Homo sapiens: one gene and its partner. The protein of the gene in region 2 interacts with the protein of the main gene of each other region in a pairwise test. Each region holds a gene or a part of one and is shown on either strand. Other genes may lie near its edges.

What was found. Proteins that work in one complex are often made in the same cells at the same time.
Region 1: the proteins of FAM124A (region 2) and CCDC33 interact in a two-hybrid assay, tested with the Homo sapiens proteins (2 studies listed by BioGRID and IntAct).

What each region holds. Positions count from the first base shown.
Region 1 is NC_000015.10:74,267,316-74,274,343, reverse strand, and holds part of CCDC33 (coiled-coil domain-containing protein 33), read right to left. Parts: intron 6,003-7,028; coding exon 5,886-6,002; intron 2,642-5,885; coding exon 2,550-2,641; intron 1,574-2,549; coding exon 1,453-1,573; intron 1-1,452.
Region 2 is NC_000013.11:51,225,395-51,232,422, reverse strand, and holds part of FAM124A (protein FAM124A), read right to left. Parts: intron 1,076-7,028; coding exon 1,044-1,075; intron 1-1,043.

The DNA.
Region 1 (7,028 bases), on a different chromosome or scaffold from region 2:
GTGAAGCGCAGATCATGAGAAGAGACCAATCTGGCTATTCCCCTGAACCCAGCCATGTTCTGTGCGTGCACCCGCCCCCAACCTCATACTCAAACACACAGCCCTCCTGTCTGCCCTGACATGGGTCATAGCCTGCCTGTCTCCACCTCACACTTGTGCTATTGCTGTGTCCAACCTGTACCAACCCTTCCTCTGTTAAAAATTCAAGACTGCCGGCTGAGTGCAGTGGCTCATGCCTGTAATTCCAGCACTTTGGGAGGCCGAGGTGGACAGGTCACAAGGTCAGGAGTTTGAGACCAGCCTGGCCAACATGGTGAAACTCCATCTCTACTGAAAATACAAAAATTAGCCGGGCATGGTGGCGGGTGCCAGTAATCCCAGCTACCTGGGAGGCTGAGGCAGGAGAATTGCTTGAACCTGGGAGGCGGAGGTTGCTAGTGAGCCAAGATGGTGCCACTGCACTCCAGCCTGGGCAACAAGAGCAAGACTCTGTCTCAAAAAAAAAAAAAAAAATTCAAGACTGCCTTCCCTAATCCAGGCTTTACATCCCTCTCCTCTGATTAAAAAAAATTTTTCGCTGGGCGCAGTGACTCATGCCTGTAATCCCAGCCTTTTGGGAGGCCAAAGCGGGTGGATCACCTGAGGTCAGGAGTTCGAGACCAGCCTGGCCGACATGGTGAAACCCTGTCTCTACTAAAAGGATAAAAATTAGCCAGGCATGGTGGCATGTGCCTATAAGCCCAGCTACTCGAGAGGCTGAGGCAGGAGAATTGCTTGAACCCGGGAGGCAGAGGTTGCAGTGAGCCAAGACTGCGCCACTGCACTCCAGCCTGGGAGACAAGAGCGAGGCTCTGTCTCAAAAAAAATTTTTTTACTGGGTTAAAATATACGTAACACAACATTCACCATTGTAGCCATTTTTAATGTACAGTTCGGTAATGTTAAATGCATTCATTTGTTCGTATTGTTGTGTAACCATCACCACTATCTATTTCCAGGACTTTTCATCACTTGAAACGGAAACTAGGTACTTATGACCTGTAACTCCCCATTCTTCCCTTTCCCCAGCCCCTGTAGCCACTGTTCTACATTCTGACTCTGAATTTTCCTATTCTAGGTATCCCATATAAGTGGAATCATATATTTGTCCTTTTGTATCTTCTCCTCTGATGTGATAGCCCTGACAGGCCCTCCCAGTTTGTTATTAGATTATACATTATCTTGTGTTGATGTTCAACTTTTTCACCCACGTGACTCCCATCTTCACCAGACCAAGAGTTCCTGGAGGGCAGTTTCTCTGCCGCACAGGCGAGCACAGCACTGGGTATGCCGTGGGATTCAGTCAACTCTTACTCGATAGTCAAGGGAACTGCTGACTGACTCACTGAGTGAGTGAACAGTGAATGTGTGGGGTAGTTACAGGAAGCTGGAACCACTGGGGAGGAGACATACCTGAGGGCATCCGTTCTGGCTGACGCGAGGCACGTCAAAGTTCATCATGGACGGGATAGGGAAGGACAGTGGGGTGATGGGCAGCCCCACAGAGGCCAGGTCCCTGTTAGCCTGGCTGACCCTGGGGAGGCAGGGAGACAGGGTCAGTGCTCTGGGCTCTGCACCTGAGCCTGGCAGCCCAGGGCCCCCCGCTTAGACTCTGGGTTGATGCAAGAGAAGGGAGTTGCAGGGATCCCGCCGAGTTCGGGCCTGGACCTCACGACAAGTGGGGACCACTGGGCTGGGCGTGCATCAATCATCTTCCTTCCTCCAACAAGCAAGGGGGCTTCATAAGTCATAAAAACTCAACAGGAGATACAGAGAAGTAGGGGAGTCATCTTGGGCCATCAGGGCCAGTTGGAAGTGACCAAGACAGACCCTGACTCCCAGGAGTCGGTGCTGTGGCAGAGAGCACACGTTCATAGGGGAATTTCCCACTGTGTGGCAAAGTATGAATCTCCTCTTGAGGACTGTGACTCCAACAGACTCAAAAGGAGGTCTAGGGGAGGAGGGGATGAGTTGTGGCTGGGACCAGGGAGACCTCCAGGATGAGGAGGGAGGAGACTCCGCCCGGCAGGGCTAAAGGCTGTGAAGTTCCAAGATGGCCTTTGGGGCCAACCACTGGCTGGAGCCTGTGGCCCTGAGCTAGAGTGGGAGGGGGAGTGGGGAGGTGGTGGGTGTGAGGCAGGGAGGCAGGTTGGAGGGGCTGAGGTTCCCTGAGCAGGGAATGAGGACCCCTCTTGTTGTCCTCCCCACACTCTCTAGCTGTTAGGCCTGGTATCGGCACTCATCCCCACCACCTGCCCTCCAGCTTGCTCTCAGGAGAGGACTGAGCTGCCCCTTTCCAGGGGCCTGGGCTCTCCCTGGGGAAAGAAAGGCATGGTCTGCTGCAGGAAGCTTACTGGGACCTCAGACCCAATGGAGAGGCTTGAAGGGCCTTAGGGGTAGAGGGGTTGCCGGAGGTCCTGGAATCAGCCCATGGCAGCAATGACAGCCTCACCCCCTCCTCTGCCCTCTGCTCTGCCCTCCTCACCCAGGTCCACCTGGGCCCCACTCACTTAAATTCCTTGTAGTTGGGAACGACCCGGGCAATCACCACTATGGGGTTGGGGTTGTTGGCCAGGGGCTCGTTGACTCCCCGGAGAAAGATCTGGAGAGGAGAGGAGAGGAGGCAGGTGAACACCATGTGGCCTTGGGACCTTCCAGAGACAGCCAGCCAGACTGCCTACCCTCTTTTTCCCCATCCGTGAGCTCATGGCTGCCTCCACACTTGACACCTGCTTCTCCCTGTTCCCTGCCTTACTCGGTTCTTGCTTTGCACCAGGCTGCCCTCCCTCAGGAAGCCTTCTCTGCCGAGCTGAGGCAACTGCTCCCGCTTTCTGTCCTGGGATTTACCAATGGATCTCTTACACTAGTTTCTTTGGGGAGAAAGGGTACGATGAGAGTTGGGTCCTGGGAAGGGAGGTTGTGTTCTAACCTCGGCCCCTCCACTGGCTCCTGGGGAGGGGTTGGGCTAGGGGTAGGGCTAGGTGTTCCAGCTCCTTGGTTTCTGTCAGTCAAATGAGGCTCCTCCCAGGGCTGTGAGGGGTCTCTGATTAGATCGTTTGTGAGAGAGCACTTTATAAACTGAAGACAGGAAGCCCAGGTCTGGTTTCTCCGACCATGCTGAACTTCCTGAGATCAGCGGCCACAGCCAGGCTCCCCTTGCCTCCCTCGTGCCCATCACCCTGGTGCCTGCTCCACTGCTCACCCTGGTGCCTGCTCTCCTGCCTTGCTGGTTTCCCCAGGAAGTACTGGTTTGGAACAGGATCATAGCATCCGCATCTCTGGGCTCCTCTTTCTTCATCAGATCCCGGTTGTCACTCCCCTGACCGCCCTTGGTTGTTCCCTCCTCAGTCCTCTGTCACCCCCTAAAGGCTTCCCTGCCTCCCAGTCCTGACTGCCCTCTCCTCTACTCCAGGCTTCTATTGGCGCAGCTTTCAGAGAGCCGAGCGGGGTCCCAGCAGGAGGTTACAAAGCAGGAGTGGACAGCGTCACCTTGCTCCAACCCTCACTGACCCCCTGCTCAGTCTGGGCCTGGGGGACACTGGAAGGCAGACAGGGGAGACAGGGAGTCTGTCCCCATGCGCCTCTGCTGCCAGCCTAAGAGGCCCTGATCTCCCGGACCCTGACCCTCACCCTGTATCCACCAATGGCTCCCACTCTCCCTCAGCCCTCACCCACCTCCCACTCGGCTCTCATTCCTCTTGCTCCTTCGATTCCTCTGCCTCCTCACTAGCCTCTCCACTTCTGTTCCTTTCCCTAATCCATCCTCTTTCCCAGGCAATTTGACACATGATGGCAAAAGTGCTCTTGTTAAAAATGAACTGGGTCACGTTATTCCCTGCCCGACACCCCACAAGCCCCTCTGCCGTGTCTCCCGACAGGCCCCCAGCCCCTGTCTTCTTGCTCCAGACTCTTTTACTCCTGCCACTTACCCCTCTTATTTCTGCCACAGGGTCTTTGCACATGCTGATCCCTCTACTCAGACTCCCTGCAGCTCCCACCAACCCATTGTGGCTGGCGAGGGCCCAGGAGTGAGGCTTGTTCTGGATCATTCTCCCTTTTCTCCCTCCGCACCCTCCTTTCAGGCTCCTCTTTCAATACCCATCTCAGCTGGTTTTCCCACCTCTAACCCCACACAGGTGTGAGCTGATGGGCACGTACAATAGTCCTTAGGGCCTCGCAGCTCTCACTGAGGGCTCTGGAGACTGAATCCCTTCATCACATTCAAAGGATTGAATCTCTGATGGTACATTTCACACTTTGGATGGGTCTGGGGTCTGGGGCTGAGGGATTTCACTGGAGGCTGGCAGGCCCTATTGCTCACAGGCTCCCCAGCAGGTGTAAGACTAAAAAGGGGGTGGTGGCAGCTAATTTGCACCTGTTCTGTGTGGACTCTGATCAGGTGTGAATGAGACAGCTGCCCAAGTACACCTGCTCATGACAGCCTGGGAAGTAGCAGAAGTTCCTGCTCCTGCCATGCGCTCACCATCAGGAGCAGGCAGCTGCTCTGTGGCCATACCTGTCGCACGGATGGAGAGGGCATCTGTGCTGGGGCAGGAGAGTGGGCAGGGTGCTGTGAGCCAGAGAAGGCCCCTACTCTACCGCTCTACCAGGCAAGTCAGAGGGCTGGGTGGGGTGGGGCAGCTCCACAGCAGCCCTAAAGTTCTGCCTGTGTCTTGGGGATGTGGCCTCCTCCCTGTGGGGTGCGGCCTGGGGACAGCAAGGCCAGGCTGTTGCCCCTCTTCCTTGTTCTGTGTGTGTGTGAATTGCTGGCTGTCCTCAGGAAAGGGCGTGATAGAAGGTGGCGGGGAGCAGAGGGCGCCTGTAGGTCTGATATGCTGGCATCAGAGGGGTGGCTGTAGGGGAGTAGAAATGTGGGTTAGGAGTTTTGGCTCCCATACCATACTCCCCTTGGGTCTCAGTGTCCCTGGCTGTGAAAGAAGGCAAAAGAATGCTTCCTTCCCTGCCAGGCCCACGGTGCTGGTGGGAAGTAGGGGGGTGGGAAGGATAGGAACAGATCAGCCATGTTTGGGTAGGTGGAAGCTCAGAGCTTGGGTCCTGTGGCTCCCACCCTGATCATACTCAGGCCATAGCTGAATTTGAATCTGTCACCCATGGGCAGTTTGAAAGTTGGGGGGAATGGGAGAGGGGCCAGGTCCCTGCATCATGTCTGCTTTGAGCATCAAGAGTTCCTCCCAAAGCTGCTAATTGGCCTAGGGGGTGGATGGTGATGGGTCAAGGGGCAGTGGCCAGGCCCAAGGTGGGCTCAGCCCTGTCCTGGCTAATGGAAGAGGCTCTGTAAACAGTTGCTGGATGAATAAATGAATGAATAAACTAAATACCTAATCGCCAGACCAGTCAAACCTCTTTAGACACAGTGCTGAAGGAAAGCTCAAGGAGGCCCTAAACTTTTGCTTGGGGGCCAAGGCACTATCCCAGGAGGGGAAGAATAGAGCAGGAAACTGCTGGGCTGTGGGCTCAGGGGGAGCACGGGGCTTCTCCCCTGCCCCTAGCATAAGATTCGGGGAGACAGGCTCTGGTCCCCACTGCAGCACAGAGACGGTACACCAGGAGCAGCAGTGTGGCTGAGCCCCTCCCCGCCACCTCCAAGACAGAGAGGGAAGGAGAAGAGGCTTGAGCATCTTCATCCTTGTCATCCCTGCCAAAGGGCTTGTCTTCACAACTCCTTTTGCTATTTTGGAAAGGCCTGGTTGCTTTTTCCATTCTTGACATCTCTGCTCCACACCCTCAGGTCAGCCAGAGGGGGCTAAGGGCAAGGCGTGGGGCCTGCTCAAAGCTTGGCCCTTTCCCACCCCCACCACCACCCCAGAGGGCCCCAGCCCTGGTACCTCCAGAGCCATGTGGTTGCAGCCGATGTAGCGGGGTATGAAGCTGCTCTTCCGAACGACTGTTGCGTACAACTGGGTCTTGGCAGTGGCTTCATCGGCTTTCCCAGACTCAGTGGGCTGGAGACAGGGTTGGGGCAGAAGACACAGAGGAAGGAGAGTGTCTAAGGGGCAGATCCTGGCCATAAATCCAGCCCTCTGCAGACAATCACTTGGCATTGCTCCGCTGGGGCTCCGAGCTGATAATTAAAGCTCATGGTCCCTGTGAGCCCTTCCAAGGAGATCAATATAATAAATCTTCCCTTTTCCATTTGAATATTTCATCACCCTCACAAGGACCACTGCCTGTCTGCTTTCCAGTAAAGATGTGATAACAAGGCCTGGGTTGTAAGTGAACAGACAGCCAGGGGGCCTGGGTGATGCCCCCAGAATTACAGCTCAAGTGCTGAGTCTCCCAGGGTGAGTAGCACATCTCTCTTTTACTTCCCTGCATGGCCCATCCTGAAGCCCTGGGATTGGGGTTCCTCATGGGGCCTAAGAGAAGGTAAAGCCCCCTGGTGCCATGATTGAAGAAATGCTTAGAAGAAAGTTCAGTGCTGGCCCGGAGGAGGGATGGGGGAGGGTAACTGACCAAACTGAGCACCTACTGTATGCCAGGAACCTTGCCTATCATTGCTTGAGATCCTCAAAACGACTGTGCCAGCTTTGCCAGTGAGGATGGAGGCCTGGGGACCAAGTGGCTTCCATGGGTATCCAGCTAGGAGGCAACAAACTTGGTCTAGGACCCCCGACAGTCTGGCTTCACATTGTTCTTTACTCTCAACCACTTTCAGGGTCTGGAATGCACAGTGGGGAGGGGAATGTGATGCTTCTGTTCATCTCTGGCTCACTACCTGGCACATAGTAGGTGCTTCATAAGTCCTTGAGCAATGAGAGAGTGAATTCTACCCCTTACCCTTCAGCACTAGGAGGGAGGACAGGCAGGGGTCTGGCCTGGGAGGCCCAACCTTGGAGTGAGGAGCCTCAGGCCCCTCAGTCCATGGCTTGGACCCAGTTGCTCACTCCAGGGGTGCATTCCAGGGAATGCTTTATTCCATGTACCCCCCAACTCTCCTGGGCCTTCTGGCCAAGGCAGCATGTGGAGGC
Region 2 (7,028 bases):
CTATTTAGAATTCAGAGTTTAACAGGCTAGTGAGATAGGGCAAAACAATTTAATATTTACTGATTTAAACAATCAGGGCCTTTATATTAAGACAATTACTTTTGTTAATTTAAAATAAGTATTCAATCAATCTGAATGGCTTTGGTCATTTATGTAGTAATCTTAATCACTCTCAATTCTTTCTAGTTATGAGGCATAATTTCTCATGAGTAAATTTACCTGTACTTTAATATTAAATATAAGCACCTTTTTAATAACCAGAGTGTCTTTGTAAACATATTCCTGATCATTTTCTGCTGCATATAATAACCACTTATAAGCCAGGAATTACAAATACAGGATGATGGATTGATAAAAATGTCTGTATTCTTTTAGCCACATTTAAGTGGAAAAGTAATAGCTAAATTCCCTAATTACAACCTACATCGGTTATACATACTGATATATATGTATATCAATGTGCATACGTATTGGTACATATGTATTGGCATGTATAACCAATGTAGGTTATAATTAGGGAATTTAGCTATCACTTTTCCACTTTAGCTATAACTGTTCCAACTGTTAACACACTTCGCAGGATTTTGCCAGAGATAGATGTTCCCTCCATTGGAGAGGGAAGGATATTTGCCTGCAGATGCAGACATGCAAGGGAAGAGATTTTGCAAGAGATGAGCTGGAGCAACTGCAGGGATCCAGGAATTGTGCTCTGAGCTTTCTGTTTGCCTGAGGGTAGCAGGTATCTGATAGATGTTTGTTCAATGAAAGCGCTACCTCAGATTCTTCAGAGATGATGCTCCTAGAAGCATCCACAAGCAGCTGATAAAGCCTGGGTTACATCCTTCAGGCTGAATTTCTGTATGATCAGATTCTCCAGGAAAAGCCTCCACTTCCAGAGTTACAGCATCCTGTACCACATTCTTTGGCAAAGATGCTTTGGTGATTCTTACCTACTATAAAACCATGTACACACATGGCCTCTAGGGTACTGACCTCTCCGGGGACCGTTAGACAATGCTGAAGGATGTTTAAAAGATACTTACTGCTCGTGGAGGACAGGTGGCTGTAGTCGGACCTGAAACACAAGACCTCAGCGTTAGTAGAATTCTTTATCCAAATGATTTATTCAAGCCAGAATTTTAAACAGTCAGTGGTAAGTAGCATTTAGCTGGTAAAGAAATGTCACCAATTAAAAACTGCAGTGCTAAGGCTCATTTTATGCAAAATAAAGTTATGTCTGAATTTGAAAGAAAACTTTAAAGGAACTTTAGAATTCTGGGGGCTCTCATGTGAGTTCTGCAAATTCCTCTGATGAGGTTTGGAAGAAGCCATCTAAAGGTTTAGCAAAAATATTGAATGGTTATTTCTCTGGGGAGAAGCCCCAAAGTTTTCAACAGATTCACCACTCACAGATTCACTCCAAAGGTTACTGCAAATGAGCACCCTTCAAATATTCGCACAACACCATGGGGAAATGTTCTTTGCTAACATAAGCAGAGGATCCCAGCGCGAGGAGAGAGGGAACCTCAGCTGCGAAGGTTTCCACATTCAAGGTGGGGCTGACCACCAGGAAACAAAGGCACAATGATATTTCCACTGATTTCAGTTCCATCTGAGAAGAAAGCCTGCTGGATATTAGAGTAACAGGATGTGAGCTGTGATCGGGAAAGGGAAAAGGCAGGCTAAGGCTGGGGTGAAATCGCCCTTTCAGTTTCTATGCTGAGAAATCAGCTGCTGGCATTCAGCCTCCGTAAGAGTGGGGCTCTGGCCAAGGATCTGCTTAATCTCTAGTAAGTTTCTGCCCTACTTCTGTAGCTGTTAAGACTTTCCTCTCTGGCAACAAATTTGATATGGAAGCTACTTATTTTCTTCCCCTAGTGTCCCAAAGTCATTCTCAGTAGGAAATTAATCACTTTAGCACGTAGGGATTTATTCTGCCATGGAAGTTAGGGGACGAAGTTATGCAAATAAACTGCTTAATTATGTTTAATTTTATAGATATACATTCCTTTTATCTCCTTAGTCTCCTGCTGCCTTTCCTGAATCATCCAATTTTCACTCCATTGAACTTCTTGCCACATTTAAAAAAGTACATGCAAAACTTTTTAAAAAAATCATAAGCAGCATGCCTCTTACTGATTAAAATAACCTACATCACTCAAAATGCTGCATTGATTTATTGGTCGAGGAACAAAATGGAAGAAAACAACATGTGGTTTTCACTTTCACAAATGAAATACTTTAGTAGTCATGGAATCAATGAATTTTAAAACTGGAAAGAATAACAACTACCAACATTTGCATATCCCTTTATATATTACAAACTGCATTCATATATATATATATAATTCAATATTTTATTGACTAGGAAATTAAAGTGATACTATCTGTACAGAGGCCAGGAGGTGAGCAATGATTAGTGACTGAAGTTGAGTGTGCACGGTGGGTGGAGAGGAAGGACTCCGAAGGCAGAAGGGATTGACTGGCTAGCACATGGTGACATACTAGCTAAGGGAGACAACAGAGAGGGGAGGGTCAAGGATTAGCAACATTCTGAAGCCCAGGATTTGTAACCCAGTACTGGTGCATTAAATTCTTTCTGGAACCATTCAGGACATAAACTTTAGAACAATACTTGGAAATGTAATTATATATAAACTTAGTGACTGCTCAGCAAATATCCACTGTGGTAGATGCAACAGGAAAACAACTTGATTACAATAAAATCATCTTAAGATGGACAGACTTTAAAGAAATGTCATGACTATTCAAATACAACACACAATAAGAATGGCGATATTTCTATTTCTTTTATTCTTTAAAATGTGTATTTTCAGCTAGGATTTTCCAAATTCTCTTGAAGCAGATGGGATTCACATATGCATACATTTTAAAGATCTGCATACAGATGGATATGTATGTAGAATGAAATTTACACTTGAAACATAGTTCAAGAATCTTAAAGTGCAACAGTATTTTAGTGTCTTGGGACAGGTGCTGGCATAACTGATGCCCCTCTATGAGTCCCTCCACGTTTCTAGAGACTAAGGGCACCACCGGGTTGGGCCCGCCGAATGGTCAGCCTTCTGACAATCACGCTGATCCTGCTGCAGTTCCCTCCACATACAGCAGCCAATCTTTGCAAAGGATAAATCTGATCATGTCTCTCTCTGGATGAAATTCAAGCTCGCTAGTGTAAAACACAAACCCCTCTCTCCGTGACGGATGGCCCAGCTCTGCTGTCCAACTTTCACCCGGGTCCACCGTCACAACGGAAACACACAGAAAGTCACCTACAGCCTCCCACTGCTCTCCAGCCTCTGATCCTCAGTATATGCAATTTGTACACAGTTGCCATAATGATGGAGACACAATTTTGAATTGCTCTTTTCACTTGATACCATCATAACATGCTGCTACACATTTCCTGTAATTATCATTTTAAATTAATACACTATAATTTATTCAACCCTTTTGTTGGCTAAATGATCGCTCCTGGTTGTTCACCTTTACAAAACACACGGCAATGAGGTATTTATGAATATGGCTTTATATTTATTTTCTTTTCCTTAGAAAAATTATCATGGGTGGAAATATAGACTGATTTGAGGTATAAATACTTTTATAGCTCTTAAAATATATTCCAAATAACCTCAAAAGCTTATTTACTAGAAATACGGTTAGGAAAGACAAACTACAAAGCTTGAAACAATTCTGCACATAATAAATAGGTTCAAACCATTTCAGAGAATAACCAGGTATTTCATTAGGGTTCTCTGGACAAGTCTGTACTCTGGACAAGTTTTTTTTAGGCAAGAGGAACAGCAGTAGGGTAGCTGCCTTGAGATTTCTGTTTATTGGTCTCACCTTTTAAGAATTTAGTTAGCTGGCTATGCATAAGACATTCAGCCCTGCCAGAATGAAGCATGAAAGGTGAATTTAGAATGAAAAATTTATACACGATATAGAGCAGAATAATACAAAAATTATGTACATTCACACACCTGACAAATATAGACACATTTCCAAATATTATTTACTATTTGTGCCAATAATGAACAGAAAGTTAGATGCAGTCCCTTGTCTATATTAATTACAATATTACATATAGGGATTACATAGAGGTTCTGTACTTAAGACAGTTTACCCTATCAGACAGCAGCCTAGCTACCAAATGATATACTACATATATACAGAATACTACATATATATATATACTACATATATACAGAATAAATTATTTTCCAGGAAAATCATGGCATAAGAATTGATCTTGGCATTCCTGTAAAATTGATCTTGATGTTTCTGTAAAACATCAGCTATTGAGCATCATGAACTTCTTCTGTTAACCCTCATTGCACTGAATTAAATTTAGTGTTAACTAGCTCCACCTTGAATACAAAGATAACAAAGTACTAACAAACGATCTGGTCTTCTATACAGCATTTCCCCTTTCATCTTTTTAAAAGACCTATCCCATTTAAAAATTCATCCCACCTATTCTTTTCCACCCACCTATTTAAAGTCTAGACCCCTGATTTTTTGTTATGTCTTAAGTCACAGCGAAGTATCAATTGGAGGTCCTCCAAAGAAACAGGGCATGGTATGGCCCTACAGGTTCAGAAGCTCAGTGACAGCTGAGATGGAAGTGGAAGTTCATTAATGCCAGACCAAACTATTGAATGAAAATAACCCATCACATACAAAAGAGTGGCTTACATGCCAAATCTTGAAGACATCACTAATGAAACAGTCATTATAAAGCACTGGCTTTTATTTGGGTTTACAAGGAACTGGCTGTCCTTCTATTTAAGGGATTCTGTTTCTTAAGATAGTTTACCACCATCAGCAGCCGACTTGCCAGTTTTTGCTAACAGAAAGTACATAAAAGCACAAGGCATCTTTCAAGTGGATTTGGAAAATGGGAGTTTCAAAATGATATCAATTGCTACAGAAGAATACTAGTTTGCTTTTAGTCTTGGCCTGTATTAGGTGGGTGAGACAGCAGCAGCAGCATTTCAAGCAAAAGAAAATGTCTGAGCAGAAAACAAGAATTAATTACAGATCAGACAGCTCCTGGAGAGGCAACTTCACTAGGTGGGAAGCATACTGGAGATCCAGGCTTCAATTCATGCCTCTAACGAGCCATGTGCCCTCTGAGTCTCCATTTCCTCATCTGTAAAATATAATTATTAGAATAGTGAGGCATGCCCTGTAGTCTCTCAGATGCTCTGAATGATCAAATTACTTAAGGTATTTAAAAGCAACAGAGGATCTATTGTGATGAGTTTGAAAAACATATGGTCTTGAGTTCACCATTTTTATTAAATAAAACTCTAAGTTTATAATTTGGAGTGTTCCTCATAACAATAATAATATAGTATGGTGAGAAATAATCATGTACTAAGGGTTCTAGACACTGAACAGCCACTGTTCTAGGGGCTTTAAATATATATGCTCATTTAATCCTCACACCAACCCTAGAAGGTAGGTACTACTATCGTCATCCCTCTTGTACAGAGGAGGAAACTGAGAGCAGAGAGAGGTTAAGTCACTGGATCAAGGTTTCACAGTCCCTAAGTGGAGGAGCCAGAATATGAATGCAAGCAGGCTGGCTCTTGTGACTGTAACTTTCAAAGTGGCCAACATGGCCACTGGCAGTGGGACCCACAAAGTTTCTCGGAACTGTTTCTTCCATCATGCCACTGAAAGGATAATCAGCTTAAGCAATACCCTGACAGCCCTTGTTTCTGTGTTTTGTTCACACCCCCTTACCCCAAATTCTGATGATCCTAACTACCCACTCTCTCTCTCTGCCTGACCCTAGGTAGTTGAGCATTGCTGCGAGAAAATAAATAACAACGGGAACTCGTACCCCTTGTTATTTATTTAAATACGTAATTGCAAATTTCAACTGGGCACCCACTCAACATTGCCCCAAACAACTATTCAAATCTCCATTCTCCTCAGATGATGGAGGGCTGTATTTACACCAAAGAGAAACCCCATCTTGCCTGCCCTTCTAATTGCAGGAGGGGATGTCCTGCCTCCTACCTAAAGCCATCCATCCCCCTGTGGTATGAAGTCCATCTGCCTCCACTTTTTCAGAATGCTGACACTATAGGGCCAGAAGCAGTGGCTCACAACTATAATCCTAGTGCTTTGGGAGGCCAAGGTGGAAGGACTGCTTGAGGCCAGGAGTTTAAGACAGTTTCTGAGCAACATAGCAGGACCTTGTGTTTATAAAAATAAAAAAATTAGCTGGGCATGGTGTCGGTGGTGCGGGCCTGTAATCCCAGCTACTTAGGAGGCTGAGGTGGGAGGATTACTTGAGCCTTGGAATTTGAGGTTGCAGTGAGCCATGATTCCACCAATGCACTCCAGCCTGGGTGACAGAGAGACCTGTCTGTTAAAAAAAAAAAAAAAAAAAAAAAAAAAAAAAAAAAGAAAGCAAGCAAGCAACATTACAGATTATCATCTTTTCTCCTCCTTCTCCTTCCCCCTTCTATAGAATCCTTTCTATCACACTGATTGCTCAATTAGCACCTATATTTAAGAAATCTTTCTTCACTCCACTCTCCCCTTTAGCTACTGCCTCTTTTTGCCTCTCCTTTTTCCAGACAAAGGAATCCACCTGTCTCCTTTTCTTCACCTTCTACTGCCTTCTAGAGCCACTCTAATCTGGCTCCTGCCTCCACCACCCCGCTGTGAAATACCACTCTTCCTTCACTTCATCATCTCCATTTAAAAAAGACATTTAGCGTTCCTCATCTTCATTAGTTTCTCAGTAGCATAGTTGATCTCTCCTTCCTTTCTCAAAAACTCAAACCTCCCTTGGCTTCAATGATTCATATTCTTCTTTCTTTGACTCCAAGTCTACTCTTTCTCAGGCTCCTTTATCAGCTCATTCTCATTGACTGGGCGTTTAAATATAGTTTCTCAAGGCTGGTCTTAAAAAGCACCTGCTGCACAGAGTTGTTGAAGGATTCGAGGAGTCCATGAAATACATAAAGGCTTAGAACAGTAGG